2 linked regions of the Homo sapiens genome follow. The protein of the gene in region 1 purifies or fractionates together with the protein of each later gene. This does not show direct contact. Each region holds a gene or a part of one and is shown in the gene's direction. Other genes may lie near its edges.

Region 1 (4,400 bases):
AAGCTTTGGGTATGGAGGACAACGTTATGTTATAATCATTAGAAGAAATTTCAAAGGCGATAAAGAAAAACTATTTCAGAAACGCTCTTCCCTGAAACACCAAGAAAGTGACCTATTATGTTAATATTTTTGTTATATGCAATGTGCCCTGTTAGTTTTGTTAGAAAATGTACATTTTATTATATCCATTTTCAAATCGTTTCTGGTAGTGGGGTTTTAAAATGATAAATGAGGTTCAAAATTAATTCCAGCCTCCTTTCTTTTAGAAACAGTGTTAGATTGAATCTGCATCAGGCGTGTTTTCACATGCTTGGCTTCATAATCTCTCTTCCTCCCCCTATATTGTTTGCCTGGAATCTGCACTAAAGATAAGGCAGAGTGCAAACCTGACTCATTGGCAACCAATCAGAAGAACTTTATGTGGAAAACTCCCTTCGAGGAGGTACAGGCAGCATGAACAAAATTTTTGAAAAAGTGGAAGCAAAGGTAGAAAAATATGGTTGAAATGGCTAAAACAATTGGTACTTGTTTTAAAACTATATTTCATTTCTGATATGAAACCTTATCTTTTCTTTTAAAGAAACACCTAACAAAATATTTATCAGATCAGCACCACAGTAAAGGGAAAAAGACATTAAAAATTAAAAAAGATAAAATAACAAATATTTATCAGAAATGCTCACCCTTCAAAAAATCTGGAAGATTTTGATTATATATTTTTCCAATTATCTTCTGTTTGGTAAATTTCCAAGTAATTGGATAAATAGTTTATATTTACTTTGTTTTAAAATGACTCAAATTTTCAATTAGAGCATAAGCTTTCAAAAACAATCTGGTCAACTAGCAGACTTTTAGCAAATAAGACATATTTCAGAAACAGAAAATTAATTGTTATATTATTTATGATAGTTATACCTAAAACCTAGGTGTTGTTAAATATTTACATGTTTAACACCCAAGTATACTTAGAGATCATTTATTGTACTCAGTGATTTCTAACAACATGATTATTTTGGAACTTGAACCTATACTATTTGTTTTCATTTTTTTGAAACTTTAGGAGAATAACTTTATTTTAAACCTCTATTTTTCAATATCAGAACCAGAACAACCTGAGAAACTTAGAGCCTTCAATATTTCCACACATTCCTTTTCTCTGCACTGGAGCCTACCCTCTGGTCATGTGGAAAGGTATCAAGTGGATCTTGTTCCTGACAGTGGCTTTGTTACTATCAGAGATCTTGGAGGTGGAGAATATCAGGTATAGTTTTCATTATTGTACTTGCCGAGCCTACTTGTATTTATATTTTGCTCCTAATAGGAAAGTTCTTTATTTTATGAAACCCATCTACCACAAAAACTTACTCCTTGTTGGGTTTTTGAAAGCATAAGTTGAAGACAAAAACGTTGATGTCAAACTGATGAGTGTTAAGTTTCAGCATTGGTGGACTGTTACCTTAGCAACATCTATGCTGCTTTTTTTTTTTTTTTTTTTTTTTAAGTTCACCCTGAACCTACAGCCAGTCATCCAAGGGTTCATGAATAGTTTAACAAAGAAAAGGCAGAGCTATTGAGTAATATGGGCTCATTAATTGTGTACTTGCCAGAAGGATCTGTCTTTAAATCATTAATGCAGGCAACATTTCTCTCTAGAGCCATCAATGTGATTCTACTGGCTGAAAAATGTAATAAAGATGGATTTTCTTATCATTTTTCTTTTACTTTTTATTGGGACTTCAGAGACACAGGTATTTCGTATACACTCTTTAAAAACAAGGGCTAAGTCATGGGCTGTAGATTTCTCAAGACTTGAATAGTTGTTCCTTGTGACAGTGAACTAGGATAGATAGAAATGCTGACTTAGGCTGTGATAACGCAGTACGTTTTGTAAGTTTTTATTTTAAAGTCATTTGGTAAAAAGTTATATAACATATTTGTATCTTACAATAATATGGAACTTATTGTGATGTTATAAACAGTGCAGAGTTATATAGTGAAGAGTTAATTTTTGTTATAGTGATAGATTTATTTTAGCTTGCTTGCTTTCCAGAAAGAATTTTAATGCAACTATTTGTTTGTGGTGTTCTAGGTTGATGTTTCCAATGTCGTTCCTGGTACTAGGTACGATATAACCATCTCTTCAATTTCTACAACATACACCTCACCTGTTACTAGAATAGTGACAACAAATGTAACAAGTGAGTATATGTTTTAAATTACTTTGTAAGTAAAGTATTTGGAGTCAGTATAATTCTACTGGATGGAAATACTTATACTGGCAACATGTACATTAAATTCATGAAAACAGTGTAGAATAAGGCAAAATGGAAACAAGAAAGTGATCTGCTTAGAACCTGCATTCTGCTGTTTCTTCAGCTTCCTTTACTTTCAAAGTGCAAAGATAATTACTCTATACTTGTTTGTGAAATAGATCAGAGAGACTGTTAATGCTAACATTTAAATAATACAGAACCATGAAAATGAACTGGCTACATTTGCTCAGGAAGGATTATTCCATTTGTAAGATTATTTCTTGTTTTCTTAGTTTTTCTGTGTAAGCCTTGCGTAAGTGAATTTCTTTTAAAAATGATTTGGCAACAAAAGTATATTCGGCATGTAGTATTTATTTAGTAGCATTCCATTTTTCACATTCTTATAAAGGAATGCTTTTGGTATTCCACATAGTATTTTTTTAATAGTAACAGAGCTGTAGGGAGTGTGAACTCATATTGCTCTTTGGAAATTTCAAATTTTACATTTATAAATACTGTTATTATGTATTTTTGTGAAAATGCAATAATTATTTGACCTTTTAACAAAATGGATTTTTTAAAAATAGAACCAGGGCCTCCAGTCTTCCTAGCCGGGGAAAGAGTCGGATCTGCTGGGATTCTTCTGTCTTGGAATACACCACCTAATCCAAATGGAAGGATTATATCTTACATTGTCAAATATAAGGAAGTTTGTCCGTGGATGCAAACAGTATATACACAAGTCAGATCAAAGCCAGACAGTCTGGAAGTTCTTCTTACTAATCTTAATCCTGGAACAACATATGAAATTAAGGTAATTATTTTGTGTATGACTACTTAGTGTTCAAACATTTCATTCATTTTAAAAGTGTGGGAGGTTTTTCTCACCTTGTCAAGCCTTTACAGCTGAATACAGTCAGTGACTGACAACGTTCACAGTCATGGCCTCACACCCACCTGAGATTTTAAAACTTGGTAAAATGTTATTGTGTCTTTTCATTTCAATTTTATGCATATTTATATATTACCTATTTCATTTTTTCTATGAATATTTTTGCATATATTTATATACATGTATGAATATAATACAATACTCTAGGAAATAAAAATTATGTAAAGTTAAAGAAGGAAAACTTAAATGCAAACAAGAGGCCAGGGTAGTTTGAATGCAGGTATGTAAACCACAGGATGTTACACAGTTATTAAAAATTGACTTGCAAACTTTATTCTCCAAATTCCTAGAAACCACAGTAAAAAGGGCAATAAATCTGTTATACAATTTACGTATGAAAATTGTATAATAATTGCATATGGGAGCTCAAGTTTTTTTTTTTTTTGGTGCTTTAGACTGGAAAGAAAGTCTTCGTTGAAGGATTAATAGCTGCAGGACTGGATTTTGTAAACTTCTTTCCATAACAGTAAAATAATAAAAGTATACTTAGTAAAAATAATTTTGCCAGGTTTTGAGATATTGTGGTCTAAGAACATGGCCTTGTTCTGTATATAAAATTTAGACTCCAATGAAATGTCTTTTTTTTAAATTATTTTTGATTCAGGGGACATGTGTGCAGGTTTGTTACGTGGGTATATTGTGTAATGGTGGGGTTTGGGCTTCTAGTATACCCATCACCCAAATAGTAAACATTGTACCCAATAGGTAATTTTTCAATCCTCACCCTCTCCTACCCTCCCCATTTTTGAAATCCCGTGTTTATTATTTCCATTGTTATGCCCATGTGTACTCATAGCTCCCACTTGTAAGTGAGAATGTGTGGTATTTGATTTTCTATTTTTGAATTATTTCACTTAGGATATGTTCTCCAGCTCCATCCATGTTGCTGCAAAGAACATGATTTTATTTTTTATGCCTGCATAGTATTCCATGGTGTATATATACCACATTTTCTTTACCCATATGATAGATACTTAGGTTGATTCCATGACCTTGCTATTGTGAATAATGCTGTAATAAACATGAGTGATGGTGTCTTTGTGATACAATGATTTCTTTTCCTGGATAGATACATAGCAGTGAGATTGCTGGGTTGAATACGGTAGATCTATTTTCAGGTCTTTGAGAAATCTCCGTACTGTTTCTCATAGAGGTTACATTTCTAGCAACAGTGTATTAGTGTTCCCTTTTCTCTG
Region 2 (3,617 bases), on another chromosome or scaffold:
ACAAATCAAGATTTAATCTCTTTATTATCAATCTTTTTTTTTTTTTTTTTTACTTCTGTCAGCTATTTGATATACTGTAGTTTTTGAGGGATGTGTCTATTTCATCCAAATTTTGCATTTCTATAGCATCTGAAAGGCTGTCCCATGTTTTCATTCATGGTATTGGCAGTTTGTTTTCTCTCAATTTCTTGATCAGCCTTAGGATTTTAAATTTATGAGTCTTTTCAAAAACCAACCTTTAGCTTTGATTTTCTCTGTTGTACATTTATGTACTATTTTAGTGATTTTTTTTCTTGTAACTGTATTTTCCTTCTTTGTACTTATTTGGGTTTGATTTGCTACTTATTTCTAGCTTTAAAATTGGGTTTTATAAGAAAGATTTCAGTCTTCTTTTATATGCATTTAAGACTAAATTCCCATTTAAGTACTACTTTACCTGCATCTCCAAAATTTTTAATATTGTGTGTTTTTATTATTTAACACAAAATATTTTCTAATTTCCATTTTAATTGATCATTATTTAGAAGTATGTTGCTTAGTTTCAGGCAGCAGATGCTTTTCTAGTTATCTTTTATTGGTTTCTGTCTTCCATTGTTGTCAGATAACATATTATGAATGATTTCAATCCTCTGAGTTTATTGAGGCCTTTTTAATGACCATTTTATGGTCAGATTTGGTAAATATTCCATGCTCATTTGAAAAGAATGCAATTTCTAATGTTGAGTGCAGTGTCCTATGTATGTCAGTTAGGTCAAGTTTAATTGTGCTCAGTTCTTCTTATTAATTTTTTTGGTCTACTTATTCTGTCAGCTGTTGAGAGAGGTATTAACATTTCCATTCCGATTTTCAGTTTATTTTTCTTGTATCTCTTGTCAAGTTATCACTTTTATCATAATGCAGCGCCCTTCTTTATCTCTAATAATTCATAGCCCTAAATACGATGGGAGATCCAGTTTTGCCCTTCAGTGCTTTTCCACTTAGCCATTTAGTCTTCTGTCTCATGCTGCTTCAAAATTTGGCAAATTCTTTGAGCAGGAGACTGGCTATATGTTAGACATCCTTCAGGTATCCATTTTTGTCACTGTAGCCCCCAAGCATGCCAAAATATCCGCTGGTTTCTCTGTCCCTCAGTAGCAACCTTCTGCCAGAAATCACACCTGGATTATCAACCTAGAACTGTGACCAGAATTGGTAGATGACCCCAGATGAAAAGTTGCTCTTGGTCCTTAGTGTAAATTGACCACACCCTCCAGGGCTTCACCTTTGCCTATTTTGTTTTGGTCCCCTTCCCCTGGCAGATCATGGTCTGCTAGCACCACAAGCCTGGGAGATTTCACTACCTCTCTAGCTTCTCTGTAGCATCAGAATTCAGTTTTGTGAGAAGAATTGGTCATGTGTTTGAGGCTTCTCAAATCTCCAGTTTTATCATTTTAGTCCTGTGGAATCACTAAAAGTTTTGCTTATTTCTCATTCTCCTGGCAGTGACTTTCTGCCTAAGCCAAACTCTCATCTTCAGCTCACACCCTGAATCAGCAAATGTCCCCAGAGACAAAAACAGCTGCCAGTCCATCAGCTGACCTCTGACTGATTCTCCCTTTCTGGAATTTTAATCTGTCTACTATATCTTCTTTCTGTACTTTTCTGATGCCTTTAAAATTTAAAATAAGATATTTGTAATTTATTTGGCTCTTTCCAGTTGTTACCCAAAGTGTTTACCTGCTGCATCCTACTGCATCCCACCCAGAATTAGAAATTCTAGTTGTCATATATATTCTACTTAGAAAATACCTGGATAAAGTTACTTTTCTGACTTTGACTCTCTTTTTTTTCTTTTTGTGTTTCTCCTACTTATTAGGAAAAATATAAACAAGGATTTTTCACCTTATTTGTAATGTATTAGCAAATGTAGTATTTTACTTTCACACTATGGTTTGCTGTTGTCTGGCTTTTTCTTTCTTTCCCCCTGAAGTTCCTTTGAACACAGTGAGATCATCACAGATCTTAAAGATTAGGTTATATGTAAATACTACTATGGGAACAACTAATTATAACATTGATTTTTTTTTCCATGCGTGTAGTTGCAGATAATAATGAAGATGTTGATGGTGATGGTGTTCATGAAATAACAAGCCGAGATAGCCCGGTTTATCCCAAATGTTTGCTTGATGATGACCTTGTCTTGGGAGTTTACATTCACCGAACTGATAGACTTAAGTCAGATTTTATGATTTCTCACCCAATGGTAAAAATTCATGTGGTTGATGAGCATACTGGTCAATATGTCAAGAAAGATGATAGGTAATTTTTTTTAATTGCACAACTAATTCTTGAAACTGAAACTAGTAGAAGTCTTTTTTCTGCCATTGGTAGTTGAAAGTCAGTGGGAATAGAGTTATGGATTTGTATTAGAGAATAGTCTACTAGTTGTAGGTGTTCATCAGTCATTAACATTGATCAGAATGTTGTAGAAGAAATGGAGAACATCTAATTCAGTAATTACTTTTTTTCCGAGATGGAGTCTCGCTTTGTCGCCCAGGCTGGAATGCAGTGCTCAATCTTGGCTCACTGCAACCTCTGCCTCCTGGGTTCAAGCGATTCTACTGCCTCAGCCTCCCAAGTAGCTGGGATTACAGGCACTCGCCACCACTCCTGGCTAATTTTTGTATTTTTAGTGGAGGCGGGGTTTGGCCAGGATGATCTCGAACTCCTGACCTCAGGCGATCTACCTGCCTCACCCTCCCAAAGTGCTGGGATTACAGGCATGACCCACCGTGCCTGGCTCAGTAATTACTTTTAAGTGGAAGGGAATAATTCATTTTAAGTGGTAGAGAGCTTCTGCCAGCTTAGTAGATGTAATTTATGACATAAAGTTGCATTGTAAATATTTTATATTGCATTGTAAATGCTTTAATTGTCTAACCTCATATTTTTCTTTTGAAAGTAATGTTATCTGGGCTTCAGGTAAGGTAAATGAATCTTGAATGTTTTTTCTAAGAGTACTTCTATAGCTAATGCATGCTTGAAATCCCAAATGAAAAGTACAATGAAATACACATTTATACTAGAATTTTTTAAAAAATTGTTTGGAAAGCCAGTGGGGAATGGAAACAGGAAGATTGTCCAAAAAAAGCCCATTCACCTATTCATTTGCCTTAGGGCACACAAAGAAAATATGACAACTCAAAGGGTTTACAGTCTTGTGCCTTTTTTATGTAAAATCAATTTTATGTCTTTTTTTTTTTTTTTTGAGACAATATCTCACTGCGTCTCACTGGCTGGAGTGCAGTGGTGCAATCACAGCTTACTACAGCCTCAACCTCCCTGGGCTCAGGTGATCCTCCCACCTCAGACTCCCACGTAGCTGGGACTGCAGACATGTGCCACCATGCCCAGCTAACTTTTTTTCTATTTTTTGTAGAAACGAGGTTTCATCATGTTACCCAGGCTGGTCCCAAACTCCTGAGCTCAAGCAGTCCACCTGCCTCAGCCTCCCAAAGTGCTGGGGTTACAGGCTTGAGCCGCTGTGCCTGGCAATGTCTATTTTATTATAAACTCTTACAAAATTCTGAAGGAGTTAGTTTATCCCAGCTTTATATGGCAAAGGTATAATCATACTT

The links. The genes of interacting proteins can lie anywhere in the genome.
Region 2: the proteins of PTPRQ (region 1) and AHI1 purify together in Homo sapiens (affinity purification with mass spectrometry, with the first as the bait; one large-scale study listed by BioGRID). This does not show direct contact.

The regions. Positions count from the first base shown.
Region 1 is NC_000012.12:80,442,652-80,447,051, forward strand, and holds the start of PTPRQ (phosphatidylinositol phosphatase PTPRQ precursor), read left to right. Parts: upstream 1-1,583; 5' UTR 1,584-1,694; coding exon 1,695-1,748; intron 1,749-2,089; coding exon 2,090-2,198; intron 2,199-2,839; coding exon 2,840-3,066; intron 3,067-4,400.
Region 2 is NC_000006.12:135,456,175-135,459,791, reverse strand, and holds part of AHI1 (jouberin), read left to right. Parts: intron 1-2,078; coding exon 2,079-2,298; intron 2,299-3,617. UniProt on the Homo sapiens protein: Involved in vesicle trafficking and required for ciliogenesis, formation of primary non-motile cilium, and recruitment of RAB8A to the basal body of primary cilium.